2 linked regions of the Homo sapiens genome follow. The protein of the gene in region 2 interacts with the protein of the main gene of each other region in a pairwise test. Each region holds a gene or a part of one and is shown on either strand. Other genes may lie near its edges.

What was found.
Region 1: the proteins of TTPA (region 2) and DHODH interact in binary tests that used the Homo sapiens proteins (3 or more experiments, as listed by UniProt).

The regions. Positions count from the first base shown.
Region 1 is NC_000016.10:72,000,901-72,011,743, reverse strand, and holds the start of DHODH (dihydroorotate dehydrogenase (quinone), mitochondrial), read right to left. Parts: upstream 3,001-10,843; 5' UTR 2,980-3,000; coding exon 2,959-2,979; exon of another isoform or gene 2,835-2,958; intron 1-2,834. UniProt on the Homo sapiens protein: Catalyzes the conversion of dihydroorotate to orotate with quinone as electron acceptor. Required for UMP biosynthesis via de novo pathway.
Region 2 is NC_000008.11:63,067,290-63,083,858, forward strand, and holds part of TTPA (alpha-tocopherol transfer protein), read right to left. Parts: intron 9,299-16,569; exon of another isoform or gene 9,164-9,298; intron 5,800-9,163; coding exon 5,646-5,799; intron 1,858-5,645; coding exon of another isoform or gene 1,741-1,857; intron 1-1,740.

The sequences.
Region 1 (10,843 bases), on a different chromosome or scaffold from region 2:
GTGGTGGGCAGGAATCCATAAAGTCAGACATCCTTCTTGGCTTGAGACTATCTGACATGAACTGCCCCATTTCCTGTGTGACTTTTGAACATTCTGACATTTGTGTGGGTAAAAATTATCCGTTCATATTATCTAAGCCAAACTATATTTTACCACATAAACACAAACTGTCTTTCCTGACCTCCTGGTCTCAAGCAATCCTCCCCTCCTCAGCCTCCCCAAGTAACTGGGACCACAGGCACATGCCACCAAGCCCAGCCAATTTTTTGAAGAGATAGAGCCTCTTTATGTTGCCCAGGCTGGTCTTGAACCCTTAGGCTCAAGCAGTACTCCTGCTTTGGCCTCCCAAAGTGCTGGGATTACAGGCATGAGCCACCGTGCCCAGCCTCTACATGGTTTTCACATACAGTACAAATATCTTGTAAATTGAGGGACAACTGTACAGTTTCACATAGAACATTCCCAAGAATTGTTCACCATTTCAGAAAATCTCATCGGGAATGGTACAGTGCTTTCCTGGGGTGCCTGATATGTAACACACCTGTGTACCTGCATTTCTAAGTAGAGACTTAAACACAACTATCTCACTAGGGGAGTCATAGCAATATTTACATACTGAAATACATGTAATTTTATTATTAATATAAACTACTTTTACATTTTCTCCTTTATATTCCAGTTAGGGTATTAATTATGCTGGCTTTTAAAAATTGCACATAGCTGGACTTGGTGGCTCATGCTTGTAATCCCGGCACTTTGGGAGGCTGAAGTGGGAGGACTGCTTGAGCTCAGGCGCTTGAGACCAGCCTGGGGAACATAGTGAGACCCCGTCTCTACAAAATATAAAAAATTAGCCAGGCATGGTGGTGCGCCTGCGGTCTCAGCTACTTGGGAGGCAGAAGTGGGTGGATCCCTTGAGCCCAGGAGGTCCAGGCTGCAGTGAGCCGGGATGACACCACTGCACTCCACCTGGGCGACAGAGTCAGACTCTCTCAAAAATGTATACATACAAAGACATTATACATATATTCCATTTCAAGGTAACGGGGGTGTAAAATATAAAACAGAAGCTTCAGATCTTATTGGATCAAAAGTGGTTCACAATGCTTTTCTCTATCACTGCCACATGCTGAGTTATTCATTCATTAGTTCAGTCATTCATCAAATACTGATTGAGCAAAGATGACAAAACAGATCTTGCCCCTACCCTCATGGAGAGTGTGATCTTATGAAGCGACAGACAGAAATTAATGATCATGCAAATATGTAGTCATAGCAACTGTGATGAAGGATAAAAAGTATAAGGTAATGGAAGTATTCAACCTAATCTTAGAGGTAAGGAAAGGCTTCCTTAAGGAAATGACTTAAAGCTGATACTCAAGGGATAAACGAGTTGATGGGGGTCTCTCTGAACCTATTCTGGTTCAATTATTTAAAAAAATAGTTAACCAGAAGGCAGTACGGAGAGGAAAAAGTGTAAAGGCTCTCTCAGTAGCAGAAGAGAATGAAAAAGGGAGAAAGTTTGGAACAGAGGAGTGAGGGAAAGTAAGGCTTAAGACGAGGCAGGAGAAAGGAGCAGGAGTCTTGGCCAAAATAAAGATTTGGGTTTTGTTCCCTAAGCCAGGAAATGACATGATTAGATTTGCTTTTAAGGATCCTTCCAAACTGCTAAAGACATGTAGATCAAGTATTCATTGGCTGGGCGCGGTAGCCCACGCCTGTAATCCCACCACTTTGGGAGGCTGAGGCGGGAAGATCCCTTGAGGCCAATAGTTCTAGACCAGCCTGGGCAACACAGTGAGATCCCATCTCTCTCCATTTATTTATTTTAAAAAGAGACTCAGGCCGAGCGCGGTGGCTCACGCCAGTAATCCCAGCACTTTGGGAGGCTCACGAGGTGAGGAGTTCGAGACCAGCCTGACCAACATGGTGAAACTGCAGTCTCTACTAAAAATACCAAAATTAGCCAGTCGTGGTGGCGCGCGCCTGTAATCTCAGCTACGCAGGAGGCCGAGGCAGGAAAATCGGTTGAACCCGGGAGGCGGAGGTTGCAGTGAGCCAAGATCGCGCCACTGCACTCCAGCCTGGGCGACAGCCCAAGACTCCGTCTCAAATAAACATATAAAAAGAAAGTCAAGGTTATTCATTGCCTCCCTTGGAGACTGTACTCCCCCCCACCATGTCAATCAACAAATATCTGAACACCTATTTTTTTTTTTTTTTTTTTTTTTTTTGAGACGGAGTCTCGCTCTGTCGCCCAGGCCGGACTGCGGACTGCAGTGGCGCAATCTCGGCTCACTGCAAGCTCCGCTTCCCGGGTTCACGCCATTCTCCTGCCTCAGCCTCCCGAGTAGCTGGGACTACAGGCGCCCGCCACCGCGCCCGGCTAATTTTTTGTATTTTTAGTAGAGACGGGGTTTCACCTTGTTAGCCAGGATGGTCTCGATCTCCTGACCTCATGATCCACCCGCCTCGGCCTCCCAAAGTGCTGGGATTACAGGCGTGAGCCACCGCGCCCGGCCTCTGAACACCTATTACATACGGGGATACAGCTAAGAACTTTTCACAGAGACCCCCGCCCCTAACAAAACTTTACCTAAAAGGGTTGGGAGCATGTCCTACTCTAGTTTCATTCCCCGTTGGATCCGGCACACAACGCTAGGCGGTCATGTGTTCACTAAGCACCCCTGTGCCAGGCTCAAAAACATGGCCCAGGCGCAGACACTCAGATCAGCACCCACCCAGACCTGCAGGCGCTGTCTGCACACGCCTGACCGAGTCCACGTGCAAATGCACACGCACGAGCATTTGCAGGAGACCCCGGAAACACGCACACGTCCCAGGGGGGCCCACACTCCCGGAGCCGCCTTCGGTCCATGCCTCGCCCGGCCTGACTCTCCGTTCTCGCCCTCCCCGGTCCCTGGTCCCCCATCCACACTGCTCACTCGCGGGACTCACTTTCAGGTGTCTCCACGCCATGCTCCTTCCGTCATTAAGCCCGCCCCTGTCTCCCTTCCATTGGAGGAGATGGTGGCGGCCCCTCTTGTCTCCGCCCCTTAGCCGCCAACCCACCAGTCGCCGGGCAGAAGGGTTGAGAGGACGCCTCCGCGCAGCGGGGAAGGCCCGGCACCACCCCCAGGTTCTGGTTGGGTGCACGTGCGCAGTAGCGGCGGCCACGCCTCTTCCGCCCGCCCTCTCCCAGCCTGCCCGCTTGATCGCCGGCTGTTGGCGGAGATGAGATGCCGCTGCACGGTGTTTGTCCGTACTACCGCAGCCTCGAATCCAAGAGTCCGCGAGCATCAAAACACTGTGTTTCACACCAGAAATATTTGTACAGTTTTTATCACTTTAAAAAATAAATTTTACTGCTGTGTTGATATAAAGATGAATATGTTAATATATAAACTTTTTCAACTTAAAAGTTGATTTTTCTTAAGGTTTTTTAAGGAAATTAAAACATTTTCTTGAGGCCGGGCATGGTGGCTCACGCCTGTAGTCCCAGCACTTTGGGAGGCTGAGGCAGGCAGATCACTTGAGGTCAGGAGTTCGAGACCTGGTCAACACCCAAAACCCCGTGTCTACTAAAAAATAAAATAAAATACAAAAATTAGCCGGGCGTAGTGGCAGGCGCCTGTAATCCCAGGTACTCGGGAGGCTGAGGCAGGAGAATCGCTTGAACCCAGAAGGTGGAGGTTGCAGTGAGCCGAGATAGCACCACTGCACTCCAGCCTGGGCGACAAAGCAAGACTCTGTCTCAAAAACAAACAAAGAAAAATAACCAAAAAAAAAAAATTTCTTGAGATCCTAAAAGTGTCAGAGGCCCTTCCCTGGCCCTGCGCCTGTTGTGCCTCCTGGAGAAAGTGGCCCTGGTTATACCTTGGCATTGTGGTGCAACAGATGTGGAGGTATTTTTTTAAATACTGTTTCTAATCAAGACCCTGAGTGTGCAGGCCCGTTGGAGTGTGGTTTACTGCGGTGATTTTTTTTTTTTTTTTTTTTTTTTTTTGACAGAGTCTTGCTCTGTTGCCCAGGCTGCAGTGCAGTGGCGCGATCTCGGCTCACTACAAGCTCCGCCTCCCGGGTTCACGCCATTCTCCTGCGTCAGCCTCCCGAGTAGCTGGGACTACAGGCGCCCGCAACCATGCCCGGCTCATTGTTTTGTATTTTAGAGACGGGGTTTCACCGTGTTAGCCAGGATGGTACTGCGGTGATTTATGACGACCTAATGTGTCACTTTGTAGTCCTCTGAAGCAATCGTGCCCTCACGAAGAATTTTGAAATGTCTTACCTAATGATGTCCTGGCCGTTGGAGAATAGCCTCTGTAGACTTAGGTGTCAACAGCATTAATCAGATACTTATTGTTTGGAGGCTCTACACCCATCCGTGTCATTTTTGTCCAGTTGCAGTGTTCCCGCCATCAGCTGAAATAGCTGGGTTATTGTCGTAGCAGAAATTAGAGCAAAAGAAAGGTGTATGAAATATCTTGAGTCAAGCCATTTTTGAGCTTCATCAGTTGTATGAAGCTATCAAATTAGAACAAATTCACAGACCCAGCTGAGACTTAGAGACAGATTCTACTGCAATAATTTACATGCTAGGTGTTTCAGTCTACATGCAATAGAAATCATTGAAAACATTTATCAAGGTAAAAGTTATGCTTATCAACCTGTCTTCCCTTTACACTTTAATGGAATAAGTTAATTCAGCACACCTTAGTCAACATAAATCATTGCTCATCTGGGACAAAAAACTACTTACATGTTTATCCTCAGTTCTGAGCACTCTCTCACCAATTTTTTGGTCGTTTAAATTAAAACTTTTATTGATAGAGTGCTTGTGTCTTAGATAAAGCATGTATTGAAAGAATATATACAAGGACTTTACCCTTTATGAAAAGGATTGAAATGAAATTACAGCATTGTGTAAGATACCTGACTTGACTTTCAGAGATTTCATCAACATCAGGTTTCATTTAAAAATGCTTGAAACGGTCCCAGTCAGTCCAGAGGCTGCGGCTGTGGAGGTACCACCTGTGGAGAAACTGCAAAGATGCTGTCTGTGTGTGTCTCCGCGGCCGTAGCCCGTGACCTCACTCGGTGGGCAGGACTGGTCTCCAGAAATGCTTTGGGTTCATCTTTCATTGCTGCAAGGAACCTCCATGCCTCTAACACTCATCTTCAGAAGACTGGGACTGCTGAGATGTCCTCTATTCTTAAAGAGCATGTTCTTGGAGCTGATACCTCTGCTGACCTTGAAGAAACTGGGCATGTCTTAAGTATTGGTGATGGTATTGTCCATGTACATGGGCTGAGGAATGTTCCAAGCAGAAGAAATGGTAGAGTTTTCTTCAGGCTTAAAGGATATGTCCTTGAACTTCGAAACTGACAATGTTGGCATTGTAGTGTTTGAAAATAATAAAGTAAGGAAGGAGGTATAGTGAAGAGGACAGGAACCATTGTGGACGTTCCAGTCGGTGAGGAGCTGTTGGGTCGTGTAGTTGATGCCCTTGGTAATGCTATTGATGGAAAGGGTCCAATGGGTTCCAAGACCCATAAGTGAGTCGGTCTGAAAGCCCCCAGAATCATTCCTCGAACTTCAGTGTGGGAACCAATGCCGACTGGCATTAAGGCTGTGGATAGCTTGGTGCCAATTGGTCGTGGTCAGCATGAGCTCATTATTGGTGACCGAAGGACTGGGAAAACCTCAATTGCTATTGACACAATCATTAACCAGAAACATTTCAATGATAGATCTGAAGAAAAGAAGAAGCTGTACTGTATCTATGTTGCTATTGGTCGAAAGAGATCCACTGTTGCTCAGTTGGTGAAGAGACTTACAGATGCAGATGCCGTGAAGTACACCACTGTGGTGTCAGCTATGGCCTCAGATGCTGCCCTACTTCAGTACCTGGCTCCTTACTCTGACTGTTCCATGGGAGAGTATTTTAGAGACGATGGCAAATATACTTTGATCATCTATGACGACTTATCCAAACAGGCTGTCGCTTACTGTCAGATGTCTCTGTTGCTCCACCGACCCCCCTGGTCGTAAGGCCTGTCCTGGTGATGTGTTTTACCTATACTCCCGGTTGCTGGAGAGAGCAGCCAAAATGAATGATGCTTTTGGTGGTGGCTCCTTGACTGCTTTGCTAGTCATAGAAACACAGGCCGATGATGTGTCTGCTTACATTCCAACAAATGTCATTTCCATCACTGACAGACAGATCTTGGAAACAGAATTGTTCTACAAAGATATCCGCTCTGCCATTAACATTGGGTCTGTCTGTGTCTTGTGTTGGATCTGCTGCCCAAACCAGGACTATGAAGCAGGCGGCAGGTACCATGAAGCTGGAATTGGCTCAGGATCGTGAGGTTGCTGCTTTTGCCCAGTTTGGTTCTGACCTCAATGCTCCCACTCAACAACTATTGAGTCGCGGTGTGCGTCTAACTGAGTTGCTGAAGCAAGGACAGTATCCTCCCATGGTTACTGAACAACAAGTGGCTGTTATCTGTGCGGGTGTAAGGGGGTATCTTGATAAACTGGAGCCCAGCAAGATTACAAAGTTTGAGAATGCTTTCTTGTCTCATGTTGTCAGCCAGCGCTAAGCCCTGTTGGGCACTATCAGGGCTGATGGAAAGATCTCAGAAGACTCAGATGCAAAGCTGATGGAGTTGTAACAAATTTCTTGGCTGGATTTGAAGCTTAAACTCCTATGGATTCACATCAAATATCAGTTCAGTTTTGTCACTGTTTGTTCTAGTAAATTAGTTTCATTTGTAAAAGAGTTACTCTCATATTCCTTATGTACAAAAATCACATAAAAAAGTTTCCATAATGCATTAAAAAAAAAAAAAAGAGGAGAGTTCCGGGGACCAGGCAACCGCCACAGTTGAACGCTGCTGCTCCACGGTGGAGTCACCGCACCCCCGCCAGCATCATGGTGTTCTACTTCACCAGCAGCAGCGTTAATTCATCTGCCTGCGCTATTTACATGGGAAAGGATAAATATGAAATAGAGACAGGGTTTCACCATTTTGGCCAGAATGGTCTCAATCTCCTGACCTCGTGATCCGCCCACCTCAGCCTCCCAAAGTGCTGGGATTACAGGCATGAGCCACCGCGCCCGGCCCTTGAGTTTTATATCTCTCCTACTAACCCATAAATCATCATGAAGATCTGATGAAGCATGGCTGGCCTGAATATATCTGGTTTCGTGCGGACAGACTCTCTTTGGCTCATGTATACCTTCAATTGCATAAGGGAGAGAATATAGAGGACATTCCAAAGGAAGTGCTGACAGACTGCGCCCACCTTGTGAAGGCCAATAGCACTCAAGGCTGCAAGAACAACGTTAATGTGGTAAATACTCCACGGTCTAACCTGAAGAAAACAGCTGACGTGGATGTGAGGCAGATAGGCTTTCACAGGCAGAAGGATGTAAAAATTGTGACAATGGAGAAGAAAGTAAATGAGATCCTGAACCGATTAGAAAAAACCAAAGTGGAGCCGGGCACGATGGCTCATGTCTGTAATCCCAGCACTTTGGGAGGCTGAGGAGGGCGGATCACGAGGTCAGGAGATCGAGACCATCCTGGCTAACACGGTGAAACCCCGTCTCTACTAAAAATACAAAAAATTAGCCGGGCGTGGTGGCAGGCGCCTGTAGTCCCAGCTACTCGGGAGGCTGAGGCAGGAGAATGGCGTGAACCCGGGAGGCGGAGCTTGCAGTGAGCTGAGATTGCGCCACTGAACTCGAGCCTGGGCGACAAAGCAACAGTCTGTCTCAAAAAAAAAATAATAATAATCTTCATTTCTGTTAAGAAGAACATGTTGGTGGGTAATTATGCGAATGTTTCCCTGTCCCTGATTTCCCAATTAGAAAAAACAGCATATGAGTTTTGGAAAAGAGAGTTCCAGAAGATTGTTGGCTTCAGTATTCACGTTCCATCGTGTCGTCTGGGTCTGTTAGTGTAGTGACCCTCAGCGCAGCCTGTCCTGGCTTTTACGTCCTTGCTTCCTCTGAGCAGGGGCCTCCATCTTAGTATCATCATATTTAAAGAAATCAATGGTGTTCATCAAGGTGGGGCCTGTGGCAGTTGTTGCCTGGGCACCAAGTCACCCAAGTCACCTACACAACAACTTCTGGGCTCAGGAGTAATTTCTCAGCACTGAGGGTAAAATAGGAAGGAACGCTCTGTTGATCATTTGGGAGATGTAGGTTACCTGATTGGTGCCTTGGAATGCAGCATGAAGCAGAAGTCCATATTGCAATTATGATTTTAGAAGGAACTAAGCATTTCACCAGCCAGCCAAGTAATTATTTTCTTTACCTTGAAATCATATTTGAGTTGTAACCCCAGAGTTCAATTTCTCATTGTAAATTCAGTAACTTACTATGTAACATTACTTCTCACTTGAACCTCTCACTATCTGTTTTGATTCCGAGCAGAAGATGTCTTTTGATTGCAGTATGTAAGGTAACCCCTGTAGAAGGAGACCAAACAAGGAGAAAGAGAACAAAGCCTGCAGGACCAGAGGCATACAGATAGACATTTTACTCACACCCACAGCAGCAAGAATGACCTCCTGCAGCAGATACTCCACCTGTAATAGCACTTTGGAACTGTGGGCAAAACCAAAAGGCTAGTGTTTCCATTTATGTATGGGGTTGAACTGGAAAATTCCCTGAGGCATAATTCATTGGCCAAATTTTGAGAGGGTATAGAAGATGACTTTAGAGATGAGTGGTTTTGTGTATGTGTCTAATGATATTCAGCCTGACGTTCTGCAATTTTAAAAATTATAATAAAGTATCATTTTTTAATCTGGAAAAAAAGCTTGAAACATATGTGTGGATGTATCATGCATTTATTTATGTATGTATATGAAGATGTTTAGAAGTTGAGGCTCTGTGAACTTTGAAAACAAAAGCATCCCACATCCAGATGATTCCATTGTCACAAACTCTTGAAAGGGTGGACTACTCTGCTCAGAAACCTTCCAAATAAACTGCAAGCCCTTTATTCTGGCATTTGAAACTCTCCCATTTTCTGGTTACAGTTCCTACTACTGTTCCACCAAGTACCCCCTACATGTACACACACACACACACACACACACACACACACTCAAGTATTTCTTTCTCTTTATCAATACCTTCCACTTTCCCACCTCTGTGTATTTATTCACATCGACTCCTCTGTCGAGATGTCCATTTCATCTGTCTAAATATTGCCATCTTAATATGTTCATTCCAAAAGCTGGAAGTAATTTCTTCCTTATCTGAACCTTCCCAGCAGCACCTAAGCTGTCCCTCTGGGCTGGCACTTTTCACTGCCTATATTAATTACAATTATTATGCCTTTTCTTCCCTAATTGGACTTTATGAAAGGGAGGATCATACTGTATTTATCTTTCATTTGATTACTGCAGTGTTTTTGGTGTTTTTCTTTTGGGTTTTTTTTTATTGTTTTTTTTTTTTTTTGAGACAGGGTCTTGCTCTGTCCCCCAGGCTGGAGTGCAGTGGTGCAATCTCAGTTTACTGCAACCTCTGCCAACCTACTGCCAAGTGATCCTACTGCCTCAGCCTCCCGAGTAGCTGGGATTACAGGCACGCGCCACCATGCACGGCTAGTTTTTGTATTTTTAGTAGAGACGGGGTTTCATCATATTGGCCAGGCTGGTCTTGAGCTCCTGACCTCAAGTGATCCGCCCACCTCGGCCTCCCAAAGCACTGGGATTACAGGCGTGAGCCACTACGCCTGGCTGATTACTGCAGTGTTTTTCAAACAGGATGTATTCTTGCAGTCTGTGTTTTAGAGAATTTCATAATTTTGGTGACCACTTCTGTACTGATTTTTAGAGTAACATAAGCATCATTTGGACTATCTGGATAACCATCTTAACCCTGAAACCTACCAAGCAGTTCAGTGCCCACATTTGTTTGAGTTTATGATCACTTTTTGGCACCAAGAAAGAACGAGCTGTAATACACGTGATGGATATGCAACAGGTGGAGACCAAATGACCTGCTGTGTGAACAAAGGTTTTTTTTGTGTGTGTATGTGTGTGTGTGAGTCAAATAAAGAAACGTGGTATCAGAACTGAACCCTCCCCATATCATAAAATAGCATGCATGCCAGATTCAAAGGAACCTGTGTAGTCGTAGGCCAGAGCCCTGTTTATCTGCCATTTAGCTTGGCAAAACTTGGATCTCATTGATTTTCAGTTTTGTTTGTATTTAATTTGTATTCATTCTTCCATTTAATATTGTTTTGTTTTTATGACCGTGTAAGAGTTTTAAGATAAAGTTCATGGACCAGGGACGGTGGCTCACACCTGCAGTTTGGGAGGCCAAGGTGAGAGGATCGTTTGAGTCCAGGAGTTCAAGGCTGCACTGAGCTATGATCATGCTACTGCCCTCCAGCCTGGGTGGCATAGTGAGACCCCATAAAAAAAAAATAGCATTTATGCCTAGTTCTGTTTGCATGTACTTAAGAGACAGAATACAGTAATTTAAATCAGTCCTGGGGGTAGCAGAGATGTAGGATGAACAAGTCAAGAGATTTAGTGTACAAACTGAAGATTACAGGTAATAAAACCATACAGTAGACAGGATTCATGCTAGATGAGATTTTAGCTGCTCTTGCTACAAAAACAAAAAAAAAAGTGGGTAACTAATGTGAGATGATGGATATGTTTGTTTTACTATAGTAACCTTCTTAATATCTATATGTATCCCATGACATCATGCTGTGTGCCTTAAATATACACAATAACATTTATTTTTTTAAAAAGTCAGGCCAGGTGCAGTAGCTCACGTCTGTAATCCCAGCACTTTGG
Region 2 (16,569 bases):
ACAAAAGAGCCAAGAGTTGACATGTATGAATAGAAAGGTAAGAAATACATGCAGCTGGATCCAGGAGTTTCAACATCCAACTAATAAAAGTTCTAGAAGGCAGTAACAGAAAACAGAGGAGAGAGGAATCATAGCAATAGAGAAAAGTTCTCCAAAGCTGAAAAAAAAAACATGTAAGTCTTCAGACTGAAGTGCCTAACAGGATGAACGAAAAAGAAAAAAAAATCATAACTAAGCAATAGTAAATTTTCAAAAAAAAAAAAAAACAACAAAAGTTCTGGCATGGGAAACTGGATAGAATTGTGGCACCATTTATTTATTTATTTTCAACTTTTATTTTAGATTCAGGGGGTGCATGTGCAGATTTGTTACCTTGGTATACTGCATGATGCTGAGGTTTCAGGTATAAATGATCTTGTCACCCAGGTATGTGAGCACAGTACCCAATAGGAAGTTTTTCAACGCTTGCTCCCCTCCCTCCCTCTCCTCTCTTGTCATCTCCAGTGTCTACTGTTCCCATCTTTATGTCATAAACACCCAGTGTTTAGCTCCTACTTATAAGTGAGAACATGTGGTATTTCGTTTTCTGTTCCTGTTTTAATTCACTTAAGATAATGGCCTCCAGCTGCATCCCTGTTGCTGCAAAGGACATAATGTCATTCGTTTTATGGCTGTGTAGTACTCCATGGTGTACACGCAGTACCATTTATTGAGATAAGAGACCTGTTTGGGTGGAAAAGATTATAAGTATGGACATGTTAAAATGGTGACCATGAGACATCCAACTGGGTGCAGCTGGAATAGCAGCTAGTTGTGTGGGTCTGGATCCTCAAGGAAAAGATGGGAGTGAAGATACAAATCTGGGGGCTGTTTGTGCCTACATGATGATCCACAACAGGGATTGTCTCAGAGCTATGTTTTTCTCTATCAAAGCAGAGAGATGAAGTAACATAAAAAGAAAAGGCTGAGGCCAATGTCCTAAAAAAATTCAGAGTTTAAAGGATGAGTAGAAGAGGAAATGCCAGAAAAAGAGATTAAGGAGGAGCAGCCAGTGATGTCAGAGAAAAACACCAAGAGAACATGGCATCAGAGAAGCCAAGGGAAGAGGATTTTTCAAGAAAGCAGAAGTGATTCACTTTGTTGAGAGGTTAAGTGAAATAGGACTAAATATGTCCATTAAATGTGGTAAAAAGAAAGTCAATAATGGTTGGTTACATTCATTTCAGCAGGGATGGGAGTGAAATCAAACTAGGGTGGGCTGAGGAGGAACTGTGAGAAAATGTGGATGGTGGACATCACTAACAAAGAGAGGGGAGATAGATGTAATGAAGGAGGGAGAGTTTTGTGGAACGAATGAGGAGTTTTTGTTTTGTTTTTAGTGGCTGGCCCTTAACTGATTTAAATGTTAACTGGTAGCATGTAGTAGCAAGAGAAAAGTTGAAGATCTAGAAAAAGAAAGAATAAACAGAAATATTCCTAAGAAGCCACAATGGGATTGCTATTTTTTAAAAATTTTTATTTTCTGTCATATTAATGGATCCTTCAGGAGGTGTGTTAGTGTTTTTTAAAAGCCTCAGATTTCTGGCCGGGCATGGTGGCTCACACCTGTGATCCCAGCACTTTGGGAGGCCAAGGTGGACAGATCACTTGAGGCCAGGAGTTCAAGACCAGCCTGGCCAGCATGGTGAAACTTCATCTCTACTAACAATACAAAAATTAGCTGGGCATAGTGACACACACCTGTAGTCCCAGCTACTTGGGAAGCTGAGGCAGGAGAATCGCTTGAACTCGGGAGGCAGAGGTTGTAGTGAGTCGAGATGGCCCACTGCTCTCCAGCCTGGGCAACAGAACAAGACTCTGTCTCAAAAAAACAAAACAAAACAAAACAAAACAAAAAAACAAGCCTCAGATTTCTCATAAGAATTTGAACAATCAACCCATGGATAACCCAGATCAAAAATACTATACTAACTTCAGACATTGGCTGAATGCTATAATGATTAAAAAAAAAAAAAAGAACATATGAAGTTTGCCAATCAAAAAAATAGTTTATGTCCTAAGTTCTGAGCCAACCAACATAATTGTTTGGCCTACACTGGCTAATATGGTAGCCATTAGCCATGTGTGGTCATTCAAATTTAAATTAAAGATTTAGTTTCACCAGGTGCAGTGGTTCATGCCTAGAATCCCAGCACTTTGTGGGTCTGATGGGGGAGGATTGCTTGAGGCCAGGAGTGAGACCATCCTGGGCAACATAGTGAGAATGCATCTCTAAAAAATAAAAATAATAAAAAAACTGGCTGAGTGTGGTAGCACATGCCTCTAGTCCCAGCTACTCCAAAAGCCGAAGTGGGAGGATCACTTGAGCCCAGGAGTTCAAGACTGCAGTGAGCTATGATTGTGCCACTGCACTCTAGCCCAGATGGCAGAGTAAGACCCTAGCTTAGAAAAAAAAAAAAAAAATCTGTTTCTTAGTTGCAGTAGTCACATTTCAAGTGCTCAATAGCCACATGAGAATAGTGTCTATTGTAGAACAGTTTCATCATCATAGAAAGTTCTATGGTACAGTGCTGGCTAGAATTTAAGCTCCATTGAGGCAAAAGAAAAATATACCTTATATTTTGAATTCCTTCTCCAGTATCTACTTAATATGTATTGAGTGCTTTTATGTACCAGGTAATGCTCTTGTTATATTTTAGATAGACAGACTGATAGATTGATTTAATGCTTACAGCAACCCTATGTGACAGCTTTTCAATGTGCCCATTTTACAGATGAGAAAATGCAGTTACAGCTACATAGTGTTTCACACAGCTAGAATGTAGCAGAGCTGAGATTCCAATCCAGGTCACATGCTCCAGAACCTGTATTCACAAGAACTAAGCCACAGTCAAAACTTCACACTCACTGTTAAATTTTACTTTTGCTGCTAGTAGTATACTATGGGATCTCAAAAAACATAAAATTATATCCTACAGCATGTTGGCTGATAAAGGTCAAAACTTAGCTTCACCTTGGGTTGCCCGGCCCGCATGGAGGAAAGGGCTGTGTGCATTTTCTCATTGCTTTTACTGCACAGAGATGGTATCTAGAGAAGGTGGTTATGCTAAAGTTCTACCGAAAAGTTCCACCACAGATTTCCTTCTTTAGCTCCTCCCATTAATTCAATCAAATTTAGAAAAGTTTTCATTTTACTCATAAAACTTTCTGAGTTTCTCCCTTTCATCCTAGAATAACAGAACATACAGGAGATTTGCAACATACCTTCCTGTTCTGACCATCACTAAGTTACATGTTTTCTTGATTTTCAAATCTCTTGAGTTAAACAATATACTTCTAAATTAATGTGCTACATGAGGCCCAGAAAAATACCCCTACTGGTTCAGTGTTAAGGTATTTATGATCAAAACTGCACATCTGCTTTCTCACTATCAAGGTGTCACTTTTACTTCTTCACCTGCCTCAGTCACTTTATGAACAAACTAGACACAATAAAATCTAGCCAGACAATGCAGAGCCAAGACATTTACAAAAATAATTAGCTGCAGGTTTCAGTTTTATGTTTCTTGGATCCCTGAGTAGAGTTGCCAGGTAAAAATATACAACACTCAATTAAAGTTGAATTTCAGATAACCAGTATATAATTTTTAACATAAGAATGCTCCATACATACTTTAAAAAAACTGTTGTTTATCTGAAATTCAAATAACTGGGCATCCTTTATTTTTATAACATATAGGTTTATTTCCTAAATAAAACATAGGTACTTTGTTAAATCTGGCAAGACTACCCCTAAGAAGCTCAAGGAACTTCATTGCTATGAGCTCATTCAATTTCCTCTGACACTGGTGCAGCAATGAAAGAACAGGAAGATCATGATGTCTGTTTTATAGATGGGATTTCATGATTAACTCAATTTTATTTGACACTTAAGCTAGGGCAAAAAAAATTAAAAAACAGCCCCAAATCATTTTACTCGATCTTCCAATATCCTTTCAAAAATTAAATACAGTAACTTCTTGCAGTATGGCAAGCAGTTGAGTTACAGGCAGGTATCTTATCTATAAGCAGGCAAGAAATGCAAATATTTAAATATTTTAAATCTTTAAAGATATAGTTGTTTCTGTAAAATTATAATTAAAAAATTCTGGTCATGAAATGTTGGTTTATCTTTGTCCTTCAACTGGGCCATGAGAAATTCTGGGAATAGTGTGAGTCGTTCTCCTGTGCCGGCCATTTTTAATCATATGCAGGTCTGAGGGAGGACAGAAGTTATAGGTCACCAACTGCTATGATCTGAATGTTTGCATCCCCTCAACAGTCATATGCTGAAATTCTAACTCCCAAAGTGATGGTAGTAAGAGGTGGGCCCTTTGCAAGATGATGAGGTCATGAGGATGGAACCCTCATGAATGGGATTAGTGCCCTTATGAGTTCCAAGAGAGATGCCTTTTCACTTCCAACATGTGAGGTTAAAGTGAGAGATGTCACCTAGGAACCAGGTAGCAGGCCCTCACCAAACACCAAATCTGCCAGTGCCTTGATCTTGGATTTCCCAGCCTCCAGAACTGTGAGAAATAAAATTCTGTTTTTATAAGTCACCCAGTCTACGTCATTTTGTTATAGTGGCCTGAATACACTAAGACACCAACCTACAAGAAACACTAGCTACACCTAATAGAAAAAAAGGGGATGCAATGAGAATAAACAGGAGTTAATGGAATACCGTGTCTGCAACAGCTCCCAGAGGAGTTGCCTTTCCTCTGCACCCTCCTCCACCCAAGAGAATGAGCCTCTTGCTCCTCGGCCTGGGGCATTTTCGAACTAGTCATTCACTCACTCATTCCACAAATATTTAGTGACTACCTACCAAGTACCAGACCATGTTTTCAGTGCTTGGGATACACCAGCAAACAGAGTAGATGAAATCCACAATCTCATGGAGTTTACATTATAGCCCAGAATTCTGGTTGTTTTTTGTTTGTTTGTTTGAGACGGACTCTTGTTCTTTTGCCCAGGCTGGAGTGCAATGGCGCAATCTTGACTCACTGCAACCTCTGCCTCCCAGGTTCATGCAATCCTCCTGCCTCGGCCTCCCGAGTAGCTGGGATTACAGGTATGCACCACCACACCCAGCTAATTTTTGTACTTTTAGTAGAGACGGGGTTTCACCATGTTGGCCAGGTTGGTCTCGAACTCCTGACCTCAGCTGGGATTACAGGTGTGAGCCACCATGCCCAGCCAATAGTTCAGAATTCTTATTTGCACTTCCTACTAAGCATTTTTGAAACACTTTTCCATGATTTTTTAAAATATTCTCACACTATTCATCTTCACTATTTTCCTTTCTTCTTATTTTGTACAGTTGACTGTGTGGAAGAATGGAACTAGGATTTTCACTTGTATCTGTTAATTTTCTCACAATTACCAAAGTGTTATTATATTTGGGGGACATTAAGACCTAAATTAAATCTAAGTTAAAACCTAAAATTTTAAATTAAAGCCCAAATTCCTAAAGATGAATGCATTGAAGCTTTCTATATGGTATTCAAGGAAGAAATGGAAGAAAGAGAGAAGAGGAGAGGGGAGGGAACACAACTGAACTGGAGGAGAGGAGAAAAAAAAAAGAGTTGTGTATGACTTACCGATTCTGTAAATAAGAACTTTGCTGCCAGTGGGATCCCTGGATCTCAGGACTCCATGGTAGCCAGCCTTTAGGAGGCCAATAATACTTCTAGGGTGTAGATCTGCACTTATTTCTGGACATTCTGCTCTCCACTTATAATAGTTTTTTAGTAACTGAAAAATAAAATTAAAATTGTCTACAAATGGCATACATGGTAATGATTTTGTAAAAATGGAAGAAAAGCTTTGGCATTGTGTATAAACTTTGCCATCCATTATGTCAAGAGTTTAATCTAGGGTATCTTTTCAGCTGTGAAAACTGAAAGTTCTTTTATCAAGGATCTGAGGTGACAGGGGTTAATCACAAATTCAGAGCTGAGCAACTTTCATTCACCACCCATGGTAGATATCCTCCAAAGACAGCCACCAATTCCTCCCCTCCTGATACCCATGCACCATTCTTCCCATTAAGAGATGGCATCTATTTGCTTCACTCCCCTTGAATCTAGGCTGGCCTTCCACCTTGCTTTGATCTAATATCAACTGGCAGAAGTGATACTGTGTGGGCCAAGCTTTAAGAAGCCTGGTACCTTCTGAATGTACTATTTGGGATCCAGACACTATGTGAGATTACTGAATGATAGCAATTCATGTGGAGAGAGGCATGGAGGTTGAGAGGACATCCTGGATAGTGTGACCTCAGCCAAGTTCCCATCTAATGCCATGTGGAACAGAGATGAACCACTCCCACTGAGCCCTGCCCAAACTGGTGATATCAAAAACAAATAAATCATTGTGTTTTCAGCCACTAATTCTTGGAGTGACTTGTTGCTCAGCAATAGAAAGCTGAAACACCACTTTTAGTATTTTTTGAAATAAGGAAGTATAGAAATCAATCAAATGAGTTAGAAGAGCCCAGGAGCAGTATACTTGGATACTGGATCTTGTCAAAATATGGTCTGAAGAAATCCCATTTTCTTTCTTTCCAAAAGAACCACCGGAAATAGCTAATCATATACGCAAACATACAAACACTACCAGCATATTGTGGAAAATACTAAAGCAAATTATGTATTTAAAAATTATTATATTTATATTTTAATTTTATTCTCATGATTTTTGGCACTCTCAATTTTTCACAAGTTACAATACATTTGTTTTGAGTTTAAAGAGACTTATTAATGTGAGACTGCAGTGCAGAGAAAATGACAGATTTTATATTTGAGAGTAATTGGAATAAACAAGGTAACTATAACCACAAAAATCACAATGATCTGGAGGAGAAACTACAAACGACAAAAACTAGAGAGGGAAATGCTGAGCCTTGGGAAATGTTAATGGCTGGGAATGGCTGGAGGAAGACAGAAACTGAGTGGACCTGAAGAGAACCAGCACTGGTACACGAGAGGGAGGACAGTGCCATCTGCATTGCTCTGCTCCCCCTCACCCCCATCTCTGATTTATCTCCCTCTCTTTCTCTCTCTGTCTGTCTCCCTCTATTTCATTTCTGTATTTAATAAACCTTTCTTAACTTTGAAAAAAGAGAGAATGTTGCTAAGAGTTAAATGCAAGAGAGGAGTAAGAAAGAAAAAAGTCAATTTGCCAACAAAGAAATAATTGGTGACCTAAATAGCAGTTTCCAAAAGCATGAGAACAACAGGCACATTGTAGGTCCTAATATCTTCATTCTACTCTACACGGTGCATTTCTCTTCCTCCTCCAGTCTTAGGGGGTACCAGAATAACTGTTAACAGTATTTTACAATGCTTTTTACTTTTCTGATAGTTTCCTCAGACATAAAAATCTTTTTCATTCCAATTCAAGTAAAATGCTGGAAGCTGCACATTAGTAACTATATAGAAATAATGTGTTTTTTTTTCCTGTGGAATGATAAAAGTTGTGGCTTCATTAGAAGGGATCATTTAGGTTTAATACTGGCAGGGGCCTCAGCTTATTCATCTCTGCAGAGTGCTGCACACCCAGGAGATAACAACACGTGTTGAATGAAAGAATAAATTAAGTCATGAGTAAACCAACTGGAACCACACACTTGAAAAACTGACTTCTGTAAAGAGGCACAAATCACTATCTCGCACAATTTTTGCAAACTGAAAGATCTAAACCTGGAACTTTGGTCTTTACTTATCCACTGATACATAAATTCACAGTATAGCTGTCATAAATAAATTATGTAAATAAACTGCTACTGAGCAATTCTCAAACAAACCACCCTATGTCCACAACAACAACAAAGAAGTGGCTAAAAATAAATATTCATCATTGGAAGGTGTCTGTTTTGCAAACATTAGAAGTAAATAAACATTTAAAATGTTATGGGTTAACTATGTTTTGTAACAGAGTAGGTTTCTTCTTACATGTTTCATGTACTTTGAAACAAAATAAGAACCACCATATTTGGAGCACTTTTATAGGGTCTAATGCCATCTTTTGAATTCCTCCTCACCATCACCCTGAGAAGTAGCTACTGTTGTGGCATTATAAGAATAAGAAAAGTAAAGCTCCAGCCAGGCACAGTGGCTCATGCCTGTAATCCCAGCACTTTGGGAGGCCAAAACGGATGGATCACGAGGTCAAGAGATCAAGACCATCCTGGCCAATATGGTGAAACCCCATCTCTAAAAATACAAAAATTAGCTGGGTGTGGTGGTGCGTGCTCAGGAGGCTGAGGCAGGAGAATCGCTTGAACCTGGGAGGCGAAGGTTGCAGTGAGCCGAGATTGCGCCACTGCACTCCAGCCTGGGCGACAGAGCCAGACTCCGTCTCAAAAAAAAAAAAAAAAAAAAAAAGTAAAGTAAAGCTATGAGAAATTACACATTTGTTCAAAGGCAATAACTATCAGGAGCAGAGTGGAAACTGAAATGGACACATGATATGAAAAATTTTATAAAAGAAGCTGCATTTAGAGAGAAATTAGCAGGGAGAATCTATGGAATTTGGAAAGCTTTGGGAAAACCATAAAGATAATTATAGCATAAAAAGCTTATCACATGGAACAAAAGTATAAGGAACTAGGCTATCACTTGATATAAGGAATTCATGAGACTATGTAGAACAGGCAGAGAAGTGAATGGTTAGCTGTTTTATATGTTTGTTGTTTTAAATATAAGAGGCAAGTGCAGTGTATTTGACAGCGCAGGCTCTCTCCTGAGCCCAACCCAAATTCAAATCCCTGCTTCAACACTTAATGGCTACATAATTTCAGACAAGTTACTTACTCTTTATATCTGTTTCTTCTAAAATGAGAAAATAATAAAAGATAATCCATGAAAACCCTACTTACCAAAGTATGTTGCATTCTATAAGCACATTAGCTATTAGGATTATATAATAAAACCTTATTAATTCATCATAACTTCAAATACAAACACTAGAATAATGAGAAATTTCATTGTGACTGAGGCACTTATCAAGCTTTCTTTATACAAAAACTATAGGGCTTCTATATTATGAATGAAGAAGTTAGAGTTGAATTAAGTGCTATTGCAGAGGAAAATGAAAAAAAGTTTTGCACTCTTACCCTTTCCTTTTCCTTTCCAGTTGGCAGAAAAGCAAGACAAAGAGTTCACAGACAGAAACTTGATTTCTATGCGGTGGATTTAGACACAGTCCTGCTAGCCAATTCCTCAAGGGCATGGTACAATGAAAACAATTCCTTATTTAAGGAATACAGAAAAAAATATATTATGTCCCAGAGGCTGATGGTCAATTTTATTTTTCTATTTAAACATTACTTTTTTTAAAGCAGCTAAAATGAAATTAGTAAATGAAACATGTTTTATTGTTAGTTATCTCTATACATATATATGTTTAATGCCTCATTTAAGCTTCATTCTTCATAGGACCTGAGATTGTGTTTTCATATTCAGTAGTTACTAAGTACATATTAGTTTATTACTCATGATATTGGGATACTTATATAGCCATCTAAAAAATGAAAATAAATAAAGTTGGATTCCTATTTTACTCCTAACATAAAAACAAATCTCAATAGATCAAAGACCCCAACATAAAAAAGAGAAGACACAAATAACTAGAAAAAATTTTGGACAAGAGAAGAGATTATAAAACCCAGAGGCAATCAAAGACTAATAAAATCAATTCATTTGATTACATTAAAATTTAAAATTCTGCACAGAAAAAAATAGTATAAGTAATGTAACAGATAAAAATCAAGGACAAAGGCCTAAAATATATAAAAAGGCCTAAAATACATAAAAATATTTTATAAATCAGTAAAACATAAAAATGGGATCCATTCCAAGATGGCCGAATAGGAACAGCTCCAGTCTGCAACTCCCAGTGTGATCGATGCAGAAGATGGGTGATTTCTGCGTTTCCAACTGAGGTACCTGGTTCATCTCACTGGGACTGGTTGGACAGTGGGTGCAGCCCATGGAGGGTGGGCTGAAGCAAGGCGGGGCATTGCCTCACCCAGGAAGTGCAAAGGGTTGGGGGATTTCCCTTTCCTAGCCAAGGGAAGCCATGACGGATGTACCGGGAAAAACAGGACACTTCCACCCAAATACTGCACTTTTCCCAAGGTCTTAGCAACTGGCACACAAGGAGATTCTCTCCTGTGCATGGCTTGGCGGGTCCAACACCCATGGAGCCTTGCTCACTGCTAGCGTGGCAGTCTGAGATCTAACTTCAAGGCGGCAGCCTGGCTGGGGGAGGGGCATCTGCCATTGCTGAGGCTTGAGTAGGTAAACAAAGTGGGCCAAAAGCTCGAACTGGGTGGAGCCCACTGCAGCACAGCAAGGCCTACAGCCTCCATAGACTCCACCTCTGTGGGCAGGGCATAGCTGAACAAAAGGCAGCAGACAGCTTCTGCAGACTTAAACGTCCCTGTCTGACAGTTCTGAAGAGCACAGTGGTTCTCCCAGCATGGCATTTCTGCTCTGAGAATGGACAGACTGCCTCCTCAAGTGGGTCCTTGACCCCCATATAGCCTAACTGGGAGACACCTCCCAGTAGGGGCCGACAGACACCTCATATAGGCAGGTGACACTCTGGGACGAAGCTTCCAGAGGAAGGATCAGGCAGCAATATTTGCCGTTCTGCAATATTCACTGTTCTGCAGCCTTCGCTGGTGACACCCAGGCAAACAGGGTCTGGAATGGACCTCCAGCAAACTCCAACAGACCTGCAGCTGAGAGACCTGACTGTTAGAAGGAAAACTAACAAACAGACAGGAATAGCGCCAACATCAACAAAAAGAACATCCACACCAAAACCCCATGTGTAGGTCATGAACGTCAAAGACCAAAGGTGGATAAAACCACAAAGATGGGGAGAAACCAGAGCAGAAAAGCTGAAAATTCTAAAAACCAGAGCGCCTCTTCTCCTCCAAAGGATCACAGCTCCTCACCAGCAATAGAACAAAGCTGGATGGAGAATGACTTTGATGAGTTGACAGAAGTAGGCTTCACAAGGTCAGTAATAACAAACTTGTCTGAGCTAAAGGAGCATGTTCAAACCCAACACAAGGAAGCTAAAATCCTTGAAAAAAGGTTAAACGAATGGCAAACTAGAATAAACAGTGTAGAGAAGACCTTAAATGACCGGATGGAACTGAAAAGCCTGGCACAAGAACTTTGTGATGCACGCACAAGCTTCAGTAGCTGATTCCATCAAGTGGAAAGAAGGGTATCAGTGATTAAAGATCAAATTAATAAAATAAAGCGAGAAGACAAGGTTAGAGAAAAAAGAGTAAAAAGAAATGAACAAAGCCTCCAAGAAATATGGGCCTATGTGAAAAGACCAAATCTACTTTTGATAGGTGTACCTGAAAGTGATGGGGAGAGTGGAACCAGTTGGAAAACACTCTTCAGGATATTATCCAGGAGAACTTCCCCAACCTAGCAAGTCAGGCCAACAATCAAATTCAGGAAATACAGAGAACACCACAAAGATACTCCTCGAGAAGAGCAACCCCAAGACACATAATTGTCAGATTCACCAAGGTTGAAATGAAGGAAGAAATGTTAAGGGCAGCCAGAGAGAAAAGTCGGGTTACCCACAAAGGGAAGCCCATCAGACTAACAGCAGATCTCTCAGTAGAAACCCTACAAACCAGAAGAGAGTAGGGGGCCAACATTCAACATTCTTAAAGAAAAGAATTTTCAACACAGAATTTCATATCCAGCCAAACTAAGCTTCATAAGTGAAGGAGAAATAAAATTCTTTACAGACAAGCTGAGAGATTTTGTCACCACCAGGCCTGCCTTACAAGAGCTCCTGAAAGAAGCATTAAACATGGAAAGGAACAACTGGTACCAGCCACTGCAAAAACATGCCAAATTGTAAAGACCATCAATGCTATGAAGCAACTGCATCAATTAATGGGCAAAATAACCAGCTAACATCATAATGACTGGATCAAATTCACACATAACAATATTAACCTTAAATGTAAATGGGCTAAATGTCCCAATTAAAAGATACAGAGTGGCAAATTGAATAAAGAGTCAAGACCCATCAGATGTCTATAGCACATCTCACATGCAGAGACACATATAGGCTCAAAATAAAGGAATGGAGGAATATCTACCAAGCAAATGGAAAGCAAAAAAAAAGCAGGGGTTGCAATCCTAGTCTCTGATAAAACAGACTTTAAACCAACAAAGATCAAAAGAGACAAAGAAGGTCATTATATAATGGTAAAGGGATCAATTCAACAAGAAGAGCTAACTATCCTAAATACACCCAATACAGGAGCACCCAGATTCTTAAAGCAAGTCCTTAGAGACCTACAAAGAGACTTAGACTCCCACACAATAATAATGGGAGACTTTAACACCCCACTGTCAATATTAGACAGATCAATGAGACAGAAGGTTAACGAGGATATCCAGGACTTGAACTCAGCTCTGCACCAAGCAGACCTAACAGACATCTACAGCGCTCTCCACCCCAAATCAACAGAATATACATTCTTCTCAGCACCACATCACACTCATTCTAAAATTGACCACATAATTGGAAGTAAAGCACTCCTTAGCAAATGTAAAAGAAAAGAAATCACAACAAACTGTCTCTCAGACCACAGCGCAATCAAATTAGAACTCAGGATTAAGAAACTCACTCAAAACCGCACAACTACATGGAAACTGAACCACCTGCTCCTGAATGACTACTGGGTAAATAATGAAATGAAGGCAGAAATAAAGATGTTCTTTGAAACCAATGAGAACAAAGACACAACATACCAGAATCTCTGGGACACATTTAAAGTAGTGTGTAGAGGGAAATTTATAGCACTAAATGCCCACAAGAGAAAGCAGGAAGGATCTCAAATCGACACCCTAACACCACAATTAAAAGAAATAGAGAAGCAAGAGCAAACAAATTCAAAAGCTAGCAGAAGATAAGAAACAACTAAGATCACAGCAGAACTGAAAGAGATAGAGATACAAAAAACCCTTTGAAAAATCAATGAATCTAGAAGCTGGTTTTTTGAAACGATCAACAAAATTGATAGACTGCTAGCAAGACTAATAAAGAAGGCCGGGCATGGTGGCTCACGCCTGTAATCCCAGCACTTTGGGAGGCCAAGGCAGGCGGATCACGACGTCGGGAGATCAAGACCATCCTAGCTAACACGGTGAAACCCCGTCTCTACTAAAAATACAGAAAAATTAGCTGGGCGTGGTGGCGGGCGTCTGTAGTCCCAGCTACTGGGAGGCTGAGGTGGGAGAATGGCGTGAACCCAGGAGGCAGAGCTTGCAGTGAGCCGAATCATGCCACTGCACTCCAGCCTGGGTGACAGAGCGAGACTCCGTATCAAAAAAAAAAAAAAAATAAATAATAATAATAATAAAGAAGAAAAGAGAGAAGAATCAAGTAATCAAATAGACACAAAAAAATGATAAAGGGGATATCACCACCGATCCCACAAAATACAAACTGCCATCAGAGAATACTATAAACACCTCTATGCAAATAAACTGGAAAATCTAGAAGAAATGGATAAATTCCTGGACACATACACCCTCCCAAGACTAAACCAGGAAGAAGTTGAATCTCTGAATAGACCAATAACAGGCTCTGAAATTGAGGCAATAATTAATAGCCTACCAACCAAAAAAAAAAAACAGACCGATTAACAGACAAATTCTAACAGAGGTACAAAAAGGAGCTGGTACCATTCCTTCTGAAACTATTCCAATCAATAGAAAAAGAGGGGATCCTCACAAACTCATTTTATGAGGCCAGCATCATCCTGATATCAAAGCCTGGCAGAGACACAACAAAAAAAGAGAATTTTAGATGAATATCCCTGATGAACATCGATGCAAAAATCCTCAATAAAATACTGGCAAACCGAATCCAGCAGCACATCAAAAAGCTTATCCACCAAGATCAAGTTGGCTTCATCCCTGGAATGCAAGCCTGGTTCAACATACACAAATCAATAAATGTAATCCATCAGATAAACAGAATCAATGACAAAAACCACATGATTATCTCAATAGATGCAGAAAAGGCCTTTGACAAAATTCAACAGCCCTTCATGCTAAAGACTGTCAAAAAACTAGATATTTATGGAACGTATCTCAAAATAATAAGAGGTATTTATGACAGACCCACAGTCAGTATCATACTGAATGGGCCAAAACTGGAAGCATTCCCTTTGAAAACCGGCACAGGACAAGGATGCCCTCTCTCACCATTCCCATTCAACATAGTGTTGGAAATCCTGGCCACGGCAATCAGGCAAGAGAAAGAAATAAAGGGTATTCAATTAGGAAATGGGAAGTCAAATTGTCCCTGTTTGCAGAAGACATGACTGTAAATTTAGAAAACCCCATCGTCTCAACCCAAAATCTCCTTAAGCTGATAAGCAACTTCAGCAAAGTCTCAGGATACAAAATCAATGTGCAAAAATCGCAAGCATTCCTATACACCAATAACGGACAAACAGAGAACTAAATCATGAGTGAACTCCCATTCACAATTGCTACAAACAGAATAAAATACCTAGGAATCCAACTTACAAGGAATGTGAAGGACCTCTTCAAGGAGAACTACAAACCACTGCTCAACAAAATAAAAGAGGACACAAACAAATGGAAGAACATTCCATGCTCATGGGTAGGAAGAATCAATATCATGAAAATGGCCATACTGCCCAAGGTAATTTATAGATTCAATGCCATCCCCATCAAGCTACCAATGACTTTCTTCACAGAACTGGAAAAAACTACTTTAAAGTTCATATTGAACCAAAAAAGAGCCCACATTGCCAAGACAATCCTAAGCAGAAAGAACAAAGCTGGAGGCATCATGCTACCTGACTTCAAACTACGCTACAAGGCTACAGTAACCAAAACAGCATGGTACTGGTACCAAAAGAGATATATAGACCAATGGAACAGAACAGAGGCCTCAGAAATAACACCACACATCTACAACCATCTCATCTTTGACAAATCTGACAAAAACAAAAAATGGGGAAAGGATTCCCTATTTAATAAATGGCGCTGGGAAAACTGGCTAGCCATATGTAGAAAGCTGAAACTGGATCCCTTCCTTACATCTTATACAAAAATTAATTCAAGATGGATTAAAGACTTAAATGTTAGACCTAAAACCATAAAAACCCTAGAAGAAAACCTATGCAATACCATTCAGGCCATAGGTGTGGGCAAGGACTTCATGACTAAAACACCAAAAGCAATGGCAACAAAAGCCAAAACTGAGAAACGGGATCTAATTAAACTAAAGAGCTTCTGCATGGCAAAAGAAACTAGCATCAGAATGAAGAGGCAACCTACAGAATGGGAGAAAATTTTTGCAATCTACCCATCTGACAAAGGGCTAATATCCAGAATGTGCAAGGAACTTAAACAAATTTACAAGAAAAACAACCCCATCAAAAAGTGGGTGAAGGATATGAACAGACACTTCTCAAAAGAAGACATTTATGCAGCCAACGGATACATGTAAAAATGCTCATCATCACTGGTCATCAGAGAAATGCAAATCAAAACCACAATGAGATACTATCTCACGCCAGTTAGAATGGTGATCATTGAAAAGTCAGGAAACGACAGGTGCTGGAGAAGATGTGGAGAAATAAGAATGCTTTTACACTGTTAGTGGGAGTGTAAATTAGTTCAACCACTGTGGAAGACAGTGTGGTGATTCCTCAAGGATCTAGAACTAGAAATACCATTTGACCCAGCAATCCCATTACTGGGTATATACCCAAAGGATTATAAATCATGCTGCTATAAAGACACATGCACACGTATGTTTACTGCGGCACTATTCACAATAGCAAAGACTTGGAACCAACCCAAATGTCCATCAATGATAGACTGGATTAAGAAAATGTGGCACATATACACCATGTAATACTATGCAGCCATAAAGAAGGATGAGTTCATGTCCTTTGCAGGGACGTGGACGAAGCTGGAAACCATCATTCTCAGCAACTATCACAAAGACAGAAAACCAAACACTGCATGTTCTCACTCAGAGGTGGGAATTGAACAATGAGAACACTTGGACACACAGTGGGGAACATCGCACACTGGGGCCTGTTGGAGGGTGGTGAGCTGGGGGAGGGATAGCATTAGGAGAAATACCTAATGTAAATGACGAGTTGATGGGTGCAGCAAACCAACATGGCACATGTATATCTATGTATCAAACCTGCACATTGTGCACATGTACCCTAAAACTTAAAGTATAATAAAAAAAAAAAAGAACAAAAGCAAAAACAGGCCATTTTCAGTTAACTGGAAAGAAATTTTGAAATTTTACATGTATATAAAAGATTATTAATCACACTTAAATAAATGCATATTATAATAACAATGAAAAAGTATATCTCTTTTAGCAGGTTTATACACAAATTGTGTTTGATAATACAGTGTGGGTTATGGAGGAAAAGGCAAAATCATGTAATATCAGAGT